Homo sapiens: one gene and its partners. The protein of the gene in region 2 interacts with the protein of the main gene of each other region in a pairwise test. Each region holds a gene or a part of one and is shown on either strand. Other genes may lie near its edges.

Evidence for each region.
Region 1: the proteins of RNF41 (region 2) and UBE2K interact in binary tests that used the Homo sapiens proteins (3 or more experiments, as listed by UniProt).
Region 3: the proteins of RNF41 (region 2) and ENOPH1 interact in binary tests that used the Homo sapiens proteins (3 or more experiments, as listed by UniProt).

What each region holds. Positions count from the first base shown.
Region 1 is NC_000004.12:39,771,116-39,774,765, forward strand, and holds part of UBE2K (ubiquitin-conjugating enzyme E2 K), read left to right. Parts: exon of another isoform or gene 1-584; intron 585-3,650. UniProt on the Homo sapiens protein: Accepts ubiquitin from the E1 complex and catalyzes its covalent attachment to other proteins. In vitro, in the presence or in the absence of BRCA1-BARD1 E3 ubiquitin-protein ligase complex, catalyzes the synthesis of 'Lys-48'-linked polyubiquitin chains.
Region 2 is NC_000012.12:56,215,344-56,218,993, reverse strand, and holds part of RNF41 (E3 ubiquitin-protein ligase NRDP1), read left to right. Parts: intron 1-2,380; 5' UTR 2,381-2,565; intron 2,566-3,650. UniProt on the Homo sapiens protein: Acts as E3 ubiquitin-protein ligase and regulates the degradation of target proteins. Polyubiquitinates MYD88. Negatively regulates MYD88-dependent production of pro-inflammatory cytokines.
Region 3 is NC_000004.12:82,436,989-82,440,638, reverse strand, and holds part of ENOPH1 (enolase-phosphatase E1), read right to left. Parts: intron 1-3,650. UniProt on the Homo sapiens protein: Bifunctional enzyme that catalyzes the enolization of 2,3-diketo-5-methylthiopentyl-1-phosphate (DK-MTP-1-P) into the intermediate 2-hydroxy-3-keto-5-methylthiopentenyl-1-phosphate (HK-MTPenyl-1-P), which is then dephosphorylated to form the acireductone 1,2-dihydroxy-3-keto-5-methylthiopentene (DHK-MTPene).

The DNA of each region.
Region 1 (3,650 bases), on a different chromosome or scaffold from region 2:
AGGTGGCTGTAAGATAGTTGACGATGTCCCTAACAGCGAATTCCAGGGTGCCCGTGTAGCAGGAGAGAAGCAGGTCGGCCACGATGCGTGCACTGTGCATCAGGGAGACCTGCAGCTCCGAGCTGGGGTTAAGCAGGAACTGGTCCCGCAGGAACGGTGAGCAGGCGGCTAAGATGACCTTGTGGCCTCGAAACTTGAGGCTGTCGGCCACAATGGTCACGTCGCAGAACCACTCCTCTGCCCGGAGCTTGTTCATGTTCCGTAGCGTAGCGGCCTAGTGGCCGGGCAGCTGGAAGCGCAGGACTTCACCCCAGAGGCCATTGTGGCGGGGGTGGGCAACCCTGGCCCGGTTCCGCGCGCTGTTTTTTTTTAATCCCCTATTTTCCCCACCCCCGCGGGGCCGGAAGCGCCCCCCACACACGGGCAGAGCCAGGGCAGCATGTAGGCGCAGGGCGGGAGGGTGTATAGGGCGCGCTCGCGCTGGCGGGGCCGGCTCCACGTGGGCGTAAAGGGGTAGGGGCGGGAGCGGCTCGTGCGGTGTGTTCCAGGCCTCGCGCGCGCGGCGACGGCGTCGGCTAGGACTCAAACCCTGGAGTTTCTGATTCAGTAGCTCTGGGATAGAGAAAACTTCCCAAGGGATGCTGATGCTGCTGGTTGGATGAACAACACTGAGATCATTGCTTTAAGACATCCATTGTTGGTTGTTGGCAATAACTTAACTTTTTGGCTAGGGGTGGAGGTGTAGGAGACAGTCTGGCTGTCTCCCTCAGGCTGGAGTGCGGTGGCGCCATCTGGACTCACTATAACCTTCGCCTCCCAGGTTCGAGCGATTCCTGCCTCAGCCCCTCAAGTAACTGGGATTACAAGCATGTGCCACCACATCTGGCTAATTTTTGTATTTTTGGCAGACAGTGTTTCGCCATGTTGCCCAGGCTGGTCTCAAACTCCTGGCCTCAAGTGATCTGCCTGCCTCGGCCTTCCTAAATGCTGGGATTACAGGCGTCAGCCACTGCACCCAGCCTAAATTAACTTTTATCGTAGGCATCTAGGGAAGTACTATTTATGTACCAAACTTGGGAAAATTGAGAAAACAGTCACTAATTTTTTCTATTTTGTGGTTCAAATCAGGAACCCAGTTGAAAAAGGCTGGTTTAGAGTAATTGGCTAGTTGTCGTGGCTCACACCTATAATCCCATCACTTTCGGGGGCTGAGGTGGGAGGACTGCTTGAGCTCAGGAGTTCAAGACCAGCCTGGGTAACATGGTGAAACCCTGTCTCTACCAAAAAAAAAAAAAAAAAATTGTTTTTAATTAGCTGGGCGTGGTGGTGTGCACCTGTAGTCCCAGCTACTCAGGAGGCTGAGGTATGAGAATCACCTGAGCCAAAGAGGTCAAGGCTACAGTGAGCCTTGATTGTACCACTGCACTTTAGCCTAGGCAGCGTGAGACCCTATCTCAAAAAAAGAAAAAAAGAAGAATGATCTAATTTACATGGTAAAAATGGGCATTCTCTTTACATGTAACATTTTTAATATGTCCACATATTTATACATACCTCTATTAATTGATAAAGCAACTTTTTTTTTTTTTTGAGATGGAGTCTCGCTCTGTCGCCCAGGCTAGAGTGCAATGGCATGATTTTGGCTCACGGCAACCTCCGCCTCCCGAGCTCAAGCGATTCTCCTTCCTCAGCCACCTGAGCAGCTGGGATTACAGGCACATGCCACCACGCCCAGCTAATTTTTGCATTTTTTGTAGAGATGAGGTTTCACCATGTTGGCCAGGCTGGTCTTGAACTCCTGACCTCAGATGATTGCCCGCCCTGGCCTCCCAAAGTGTTGGGATTACAGGTGTGAGCCACCGCGCCCAGCCAGTGAGACAACTTTTTTTAACAGAAATGCCAAGAATTATTGCTAGACAGGTAGATACTATTTTTTAGACAAATATTAGCTTTATAAAGATATTTTCCTTATAAATACATTTAGAATCATAAATTAAGTGATGTAGTTTAATCCAAAAAACTTGTCCTGTTTCAGAATGTTATGGAATGATTTCATATTTTCTTGAAAATATGGCCGGGCGCGGTGGCTCAAGCCTGTAATCCCAGCATTTTGGGAGGCCAAGGCGGGCGGATCACAAGGTCAGGAGATCAAGACCATCCTGTGTCTCACGGTGAAACCCTGTTCTACTAAAACTACAAAAAATTAGCCGGGCATGGTGGCATGTGCCTGTAGTCCCAGCTACTTGTGAGGCTGAGGCAGGAGAATTGCTTGAACCAGGGAGGTGGAGGTTCCGGTGAGCCGAGATCGCGCCACTGCACTCCAGCCTCGGCGGCAGAGTGAGACTCCATCTCAAGAAAATAAAAGAAAAGAAAAAAGAAAATATATTTGTTTCATAGTATCTTGTTTTTAGAGTGCCATTGAAAGAAAGCCTCACATGCTATTAGTACTAATGATTTATCACTTTAACTTTGTTTAGAGAAATGGATAGAAAAATAAGTGAGTGGATAAAACTAACAAGAAGGTGGCTGGGCGCGGTGGCTCACGCCTGTAATCCCAGCACTTTGGGAGGCCGAGGCGGGCGGATCACGAGGTCAGGAGATCGAGACCATCCTGGCTAACACAGTGAAACCCCGTCTCTACTAAAAATACAAAAAATTAGCCGGGCGTGGTGGCGGGCGCCTGTTGTCCCAGCTACTCGGGAGGCTGAGGCAGGAGAATAGCGTGAACCCGGGAGGCGGAGCTTGCAGGGAGCCGAGATCGCGCCACTGCACTCCAGCCTGGGCGACAGAGTGAGACTCCGCCTCAAAACTAAACTAAACTAAACTAACAAGAAGGATCTTGGCAACAAGAAAAACAAGGACAGTTCAGAATTCGAGTTGTCTTAAGAAATAGAAAAGCTGGCCGAGTGTAGTAGCTCACACCTGTAACCCTAACCTTTGGGAGGCCAAGGTGGATGGATCACCTGAGCTCAGAAGTTCGATACCAGCCTAGGCAACATGGCAAAACCCCGTCTTTACGAAAAAAGGAAAAACAAAAAAAATGCTGGGTGTGGTGGTGTGTGCCTGTAGTCCCAGCTACTCGTGAGGCTGAGGCAGGAGAATCGCTTGAGCCCAGGAGGCGGAGGTTGCAGTGAGACAAGATAGTGCCACTGCCCACTCCAGCCTGAGCGGCAGAGCAAGACACTGTCATTAAAAAAAAGAAAAAAGGCCGGGCGCAGGTGGTTTTTCATGCCTGTAATCCCAGCACATTGGGAGGCCAAGGCGGGCGGATTACGAGGTCAGGAGATCGAGACCATCCTGGCTAACACTGTGAAACCCCGTCTCTACTAAAAAAAAAAATACAAAAAATTAGCTGGGCGTTAAGGCGGGCCCCTGTAGTCTCAGCTACTCTGAAGGCTGAGGCAGGAGAATGGCGTGAACCCGGGAGGCGGAGCTTGCAGTGAACCGAGACTATACCACTGCACTCCAGCCTGGGCGACAGAGCCAGACTCCGTCTCAGGGGAAAAAAAGAAAAAAGAAATAGGCAAATTGTAAAGTAAGGAAGAAAATATATGATAGGCAGATACATAATTATAAATGTCTATGACTTAACTATATAATTAAGATAAAGATCTAAGTAACTTTTAGCTCTACAATTTTTTAATTTTTAT
Region 2 (3,650 bases):
ATGGTGGCTCACGCCTATAATCCCAGCACTTTGGGAGGCCGAGGCGGGCGGATCACAAGGTCAGGAGATTGAGACCATCCTGGCCAACATGGTGAAACCCCGTCTCTACTAAAAATACAAAAATTAGCTCAGCATGGTGGCACATGCCTGTAGTCCCAGCTACTTGGGAGGATGAGGCAGGAGAATCGCTTGAACCCGGGAGGCAGAGGTTGCAGTGAGCCAAGATCGTGCCACTGTACTCCAGCCTGGCGACAGAGCAACACTTTGTCTCAAAAAAAAAATAACATATATATATATAATAAATATGTATATATTATATATACCTTATATTAATATATAAGGCAGGTATCATTTTCCCTACTTGACAGTTGAAGCAACAGAAAAACTACAGCAGGGTTACTTGACTTGTTTAAATGTGTAGATTTGGGGGTGGGCGCAGTGGCTGGTGCCTGTAATCCCAGCACTTCGGGAGGCTGAGGTGGGAGGATTGCTGGAGCCTGCCCAGGAGTTCAAGACCAGCCTGGGCAACATGGCAAAACCCCATCTCTACCAAAAATACAAAAATTAGCCAGGCATGGTGGTGTGTGCCTGTGGTCCCAGCTATTTGGGAGACTGAGGTGGGAGGATTGCTGGAGCCTGCTGGGAAGGCGAGGCTGTAGTGAGCTATGATCATGCCACTGTACTCCAGCCTGGGCAATAGAGCAAGACCCTATCTCAAAAAAATAATAATAATTTATGTGGGCCAGGCGCGGTGGCTCACACTTGTAATCCCAGCATTTTGGGAGGCTGAGGCGGGTGGATCACCTGAGGTCAGGAGTTCGAGACCAGCCTGGCCAACATGGTGAAACCCCGTCTCTACTAAAAATACAAAAATTAGCCGGGCATGGTGGTGGGTGCCTGTAATCCTAGCTACTCTGGAGGCTGAGGTAGGAGAATCACTTGAACTCGGGAGGCCAAGGCTTCAGTGAGCCAAGATCGCGCCATTGCACTCTAGCCTAGGTGACAGAGCGAGACTCTATCTCGAAATAATAATAATAATTTATGTGAAAGCACTTTGGAAACATTAAAGCAGCATCCCCAGCCTTTTTGTGGAAGATAGTTTTTCCACAGATGGTGGGCGAGGGGATGGTTTTGTGATGGAACTCTACCACCTCAGATCATCAGGCATTAGATTCTCATAGGGAGTGGGCAACCTAGATCCCTCGCATGGGCAGTTCACAATAGGGTTCATGCTCCAATGAGAATCAAATGCCGCTGCTGATCTGACAGGACATGGAGCACAGGCCTTAATGCTCGCTTGTTTCCTGCTCACCTCCTGCTGTACGACCCGGTTCCTGATAGGCCACAGTCTGGTACTGGTCCATCTGGGGATTTGGGGACCTCTGCATTAAAGCATCATCCTGTACACATAATGTATTATGGATCTATGCATTTTGCTTTTTTTTTGAGTCAGAGTCTTGCTCTGTCGCCTAGGCTGGAGTGCAGTGGCGCGATCTTGGCTCACTGCAACCTCCGCCTCCTGGGTTCAAGCAATTCTCCCTGCCTCAGCCTCCTGAGTAGCTGGGATTACAGGCATCTGCCACCATACCCGGCTAATTTTTATATTTTTAGTAGAGATGGGGTTTCGCCATGTTGGCCAGGCTCATCTCCGACTCCTGACCTCAGGTGATCCACCCGCCTCGGCCTCCCAAAGTGCTGGGATCACAGGCGTGAGCCATCGCAACCTGGATCTATGCATTTTGTAGTCACAGATTTGGAATCATTATTACTGGTAGTTATGTGCACTGAATAAAAGAATCTTAAATCTCCAACAACTCCTCTACTTTTCCTCTTGTCTTTTTTTTTTTTTTTTTTAAGACGGAGTCTTGCTGTGTCGCCCAGGCTGGAGTGCGGTGGCGCGGTCTCGGCTCACTGCAAGCTGCAGCTCCTAGGTTCACGCCATTCTCCTGCCTCAGCCTCCCGAGTAGCTGGGACTACAGGCGCCTGCCACCTCGCCCAGCTAATTTTTTGTATTTTTAGTAGAGACGGGGTTTCACCGTGTTAGCCAGGACGGTCTTGATCTCCTGACCTCGTGATCCACCCGCCTTGGCCTCCCTAAGAGCTGGGATTACAGGCGTGAGCCACCACGCCCGGCCTCTCTTGTCCTTTTCTTTCCCCCTCCCAGCTATGTTCAAATCTACTGGACCCCGTGTGTGTGCTTCCTTAGCTGGTGAGCTCCCTCCTTAGAAGGTAGTCTTATTTGCCTAGCACTGAAAACTGTAGTGCTTAATGGAGTTGTCTCATCCTCCCCAACCAACTGCCAGATCCATCTGTCCAGTCTCCTTGCCAAGTGGAGGTAGTTCTCCTGACTCTCCTTTCTCTTCCTTGTTCCTATTACTAGAGTACTCCTGATTGTGACATCACATTCATCCCCTGGGCGATGGAGCTTGTCACTGGGAAGGAATACTCAGTCGGAGAATAGCCAACAAGATGGGTTACTGGGAGAATCTCTTCAGTGGCACTGAGTGGAGGCATCAGGGGGTTGGAGCCTTGTGAACAGGGAACCTGCCCCCCAACACTTGGAAGGTAAAGAGCTTTGATTCAGAATCCCATTCCAGGCCTCAACCCTCTTCTCTGTCGCTCGGGATTCCTTCTGCCCTTGAAAGTCCAGTTCTTAAAACTTCTTTCTGCAGAAAGCTTTCTGTGATTAATCTGTACCATTTGTTCTTTTTTGTATATTTACAACTTACATAAATTATTGACTTTTACTTGTTAATAATTTGCTTAATACGTTTATGTGTTTTTATGTGTTTTTTTTCCTATGTACTCATTGGGCTCAAGCCTACACCTTAGTTTGAGGACAAGGATTATGTGTTTCTTCTTTTTTTTTTTTGAGACAGAGTCTTGCTCTGTCGCCTAGGCTGGAGTGCAGTGGCATGATCTCAGCTCACTGCAACCTTCACCTCCTGGGTTCAAGCAGTTCTCCTGCCTCACCCTCCCAAGTAGCTAGGATTACAGGTGCCCACCACCATGCCCAGCTAATTTTTGTATTTTTAGTAGAGATGGGGTTTCACCATGTTGGCCAGGCTGGTCTTGAACTCCTGACCTCAGGTGATCCACCCACCTCGGCCTCCCAAAGTGCTAGGATTACAGGCGTGAGCCACTGCGCCCAGCCAGTTGTTTACTGACCTCTTCTTTGGGTTTGACCTTTGGGAGCCCAAAGAAGGGGCATGGCGCCATTGCCGCTGTTTGAGTCCTTGCTCTTTTGGACCTCTCTTTTTTTTTTTTTTTTTTTTTGAGACAGAGTCGTGCTCTGTCACTGGGCTAGAATACAGTGGTGCAATCTCGGCTCACTGCAACCTCCGCCTCCTGGGTTCAAGCGATTCTCCTGCCTCAGCCTCCCGAGTAGCTGGGACTACAGGTGCGCACCACCACGCCTGGCTAATTTTTGTATTTTTAGTAGAGACGGGGTTTCGCCATGTTGGCCAGGATGGTGTTGATCTCTTGACCTCATGATCCGTCTGCCTCAGCCTCCCAAAGTGCTGGGATTACAGGCATGAGCCACCATGCCCGGCCCTCTCTTCTCTTCTTTATCCCCATCACCACCACCACCTAAGTTCAGACTCTTACCGTCACTCTCCTGACTTAGATGTTCTTCCGGTCTCCAGTTT
Region 3 (3,650 bases), on a different chromosome or scaffold from region 2:
GAGTATCTCCAATGAGTTCCAGAAAGGGAACTTGACTGGCCCAGAGTCCTAGTCCTTAACAGTGGAGGGGAAAGGAAGGCATTCACATTCATCTCCTTGAATCTGCCTAACATCCCTGCAAAGTAAGCCTTCTTTCATAGAGGAAGACACTGAGGTTCAAAGAGGTTTCGCTGCTGGTGCAGAGTAAAGCCAGGACTCAAACCCAGGCCTATCAAATCCCAACACCTGAAGCCATCCAGCTCTCACGGGTGAATGACTTCAAGGAGCACTACTCACCAGGATCATCTAACTCCCTGGATCTTGACAGCATATTCTCTATGGAAATTTCTAATATAGCTTTGATTCCCCAAAGAGGTTTCATACAAAGAAAATGAGAGATTATGGTTCACCCAGTAGTTCTGTAACATTTCCTATAAAGTATCAGCAATAATAATTCAAGTAGTTATAGTAATGGGAGTAACTGCCAACATTTACTGAGCACTTACTATGACAAACACTTCTCTTTTCTATCTATAATCACTCCTTTGTGATCTTACCTAATTCCATGACTTTAAATACCATTTATACTAATGATCCCCAAATCCTTACCTTTAGCTTGGACCTTTTCCAAATGCCTACCCAATATCCCCACTTGCATGTCTATTCAGTATCTCAAACTAAACACATCTGAAACCAAACTCTTGATTCCATCCCTTAATCCTCCTCCTCCCCCTACATCTCCACATCACAGTAAATGACAGAACCATCCTTCCAGATGCTCAGGCCAAAAACCTTAGAGTCATCTTTGACTCCTCTTTCTCTCAAACTCCACATCCAACCAATCCATCAGCAAATCCCATCAGCTCTACCTTCAAAATATATTCAGATCCAATCACTTCTCACCACTGCCACCACCAAGCACTCAAAATTTACTCAACTTACTGATAATGTCATTTTAATCTTCATAATAACCCTGTGAAATTGGTGCTACTACTTCCTCCATTTTTCAGAGGCACATAAAGGTTAAGTACAAATTAACAAACTGAGATTATAGTTTACCAATCAGGTCTTTCTTTTTGAGTTTATAGAGTCAGATGCCTGGAATCTCCCCAGTATCAGATCGGGGGTAAAGATCCCACTCTTTACCCCCATCAAAGGGATCTAATTACCTTCCTGAACTTACAACGACTTGGACCCATACAAGACCAGTCCAGAGAGAGCTGGAGTAAGTATACACAAGCTTAACTGTCAAACACTGGTCTGATTGTGAGCTCCAAAGTCCCACCAAGGTCTCAATGCTGAAATTACCATTAGTTTCCAAACCGCATGCCTTAGTTTCTCTTTACTCAGTAAAGGGGTACCAGGTCCACACTTTTTAGACTTAAGAAAAGGAACTTGTTAGAAGGTCACATCATGAATCACTGGAAAGAAAATCAAGCTAAGAAATGAACCCCTCATGCACATACCTAGAAGGCAAACAACCCCTTTCTGTCCTAAAGACATTCTGTCTTTGAAAAGAAACCCATTTTCCTGAAATGGTATCACCTGGGAAAGGTCCAGAGAGGATCCAGGAGGGCCTCTGAGGATAAAGCTACCAACTTTCCACACGACTCTTTAGTGAGCTGATGGGAAAATGGGTGCAATAGGATTAGGGCAGGTTGGTTTCCACTCCTCTTCTGACCTGCACCTCCAACAAAACCAGTTTTGAAAATCAAATGAGTTGATAAATGTGAAATTCAAAGTTTCATATAAAAATAACCTTTTATTGTAAAAAAGAATACTTTGTTTTCTTTAGTGGAGTGGTAACACAGGGTAAGCTGCAAGGATAGAAAATTTTAAGACCCATCAGACAAAGAAGAAGTAAGCACTTTTCAGGGCTAAACACAGGGTATCATTTTAAAAGTCTGTATGAGCAAGATAAAATCCAGCCTATGTATTTAAAATATAGGGGTTATAGCTTAAAATCAGTGCCCCTTTTAAAAATTGTTATTTTTTCGATCACGCCACTGCATTCCAGCTCTGTCACCCAGGCTGCATGCAGTGCAGTGGCACAATCACACCTCACCACAGTCTCTACCTCCTGGGCTCAAGTGATCCTCCCACCTCAGCCTCCTGAGTAGCTGGGATTACAGGTGCACATCACCATGTCCAGCCAATTTTTTATTTTTTGTAGAGATGGGGTCTCCCTATGTTGCCCAGGCTGGTCTTGAACTCCTGGACTCAAGTAATCTCCTTGCCATGGCCTTCCAAAGTGCTGGGATTACAGGTGTGAGCCACCATGCCCAACCCCTTTTACTCAATAAGTCTGACTACATATCTTTCAAAGATCTGTATGACTTTACTGTGTACCTAGGGAAAAAAACAGAAGGAATATTCACCAAACTCTTAATGGTCACCTCTGGATGGCAGGAGCATATCAGGGCTTTCACTCTCTATATCATACTCTTCTTTGTCTGCAATTTTATAATCAGGGCGAACTAATTTTCTAGGAAGAATATTTGGGGGGGTAGAAAAACCTTTCCTCTAGTCTTACATTAACAGATGCAAGTTTCTATAAATAACATATTTCACTTTTTATCTTAATTTTGTTAATAAAATTTTCTCTTTTATGACATTTAATTTCCATTATCAGCTGGTTTCATCCTCTATAACTTGTAGGTTTTGGAAATGTTGAGTCAATGAATTCTAATGCCACTCTAGAAACACTTTCAGTTAAATTGTTCAAATATAATAGAGTACCACCTTGAGGAAATCTGAAATAGCAAGGATTGCAGAGTATGGAAGAAACTGAATCCCAGTCCCTCCCACACCCATTCCGGAATGCATATCACCATCACCCAGCATGTTACAGCATGCCTGATGTGTAAGCACTGTGTGAGGCTCTGGTCTCTGCCCTTGAGGAGCCTTCCACACAGCTTGAAAAAGAGGACACACATCCAACATCACAAGTCAGCTATTGGCTCCAGTAGCAAATACTACACATGGTACTGACAATGAGTTCAGAGGACGAAGAGAAAGGACTTTGAAATTCCTGCTTAAATAGGTCCTTTACAAGAAGAGGTAGCTCTTACTTCCATATTCCCACAGCTTAGCACAATAAGTAATTTTTTTTTAAGTTAATGAGTGCATGGGACCCACACTTGGAGACGAAAAGGTATGACATTCCAAGCTGGAAGAATGGTGGCAGCAAGAAAGGGCATGATTGGAATGTGCATGTTCAGCTATGTAAAGTGTAAAGAGAGGGATAGAAAGTTGGAAAACCCAATTTGTTGAACTCTCATCTCACAGCCAGTGAGAGACTACAGAGGACTTTGATTATGCAAAGGCGACCTATTTATGTAACTGTCTTCCTTTCTAGGTTCCCTGAGGAACCTGAGGGTGACAGCTGGGTCTTAAGGACTCTGGATCCCTACCATATCCTGGAACATGACAGGTATTCAATTAAATGTGAGGGAAAGGAAAGAAGGATTGATTAGGCTGGAAAGATTATGCTAATGCCACAATACTGAAGGTTCTAGAAAAATAAGGAACCAGAAATCAAAGTGAGAGGTGCTTTCTTTTTTTATAATTTTTTTTTAAGACAGGGTCTTGCTATGTTGCCCAGGCTGGTCTGAAACTCCTAGCCTCAAGTGATCCTCCAACCTTTGCCTCCCAAAGTGTTCGGATTACAG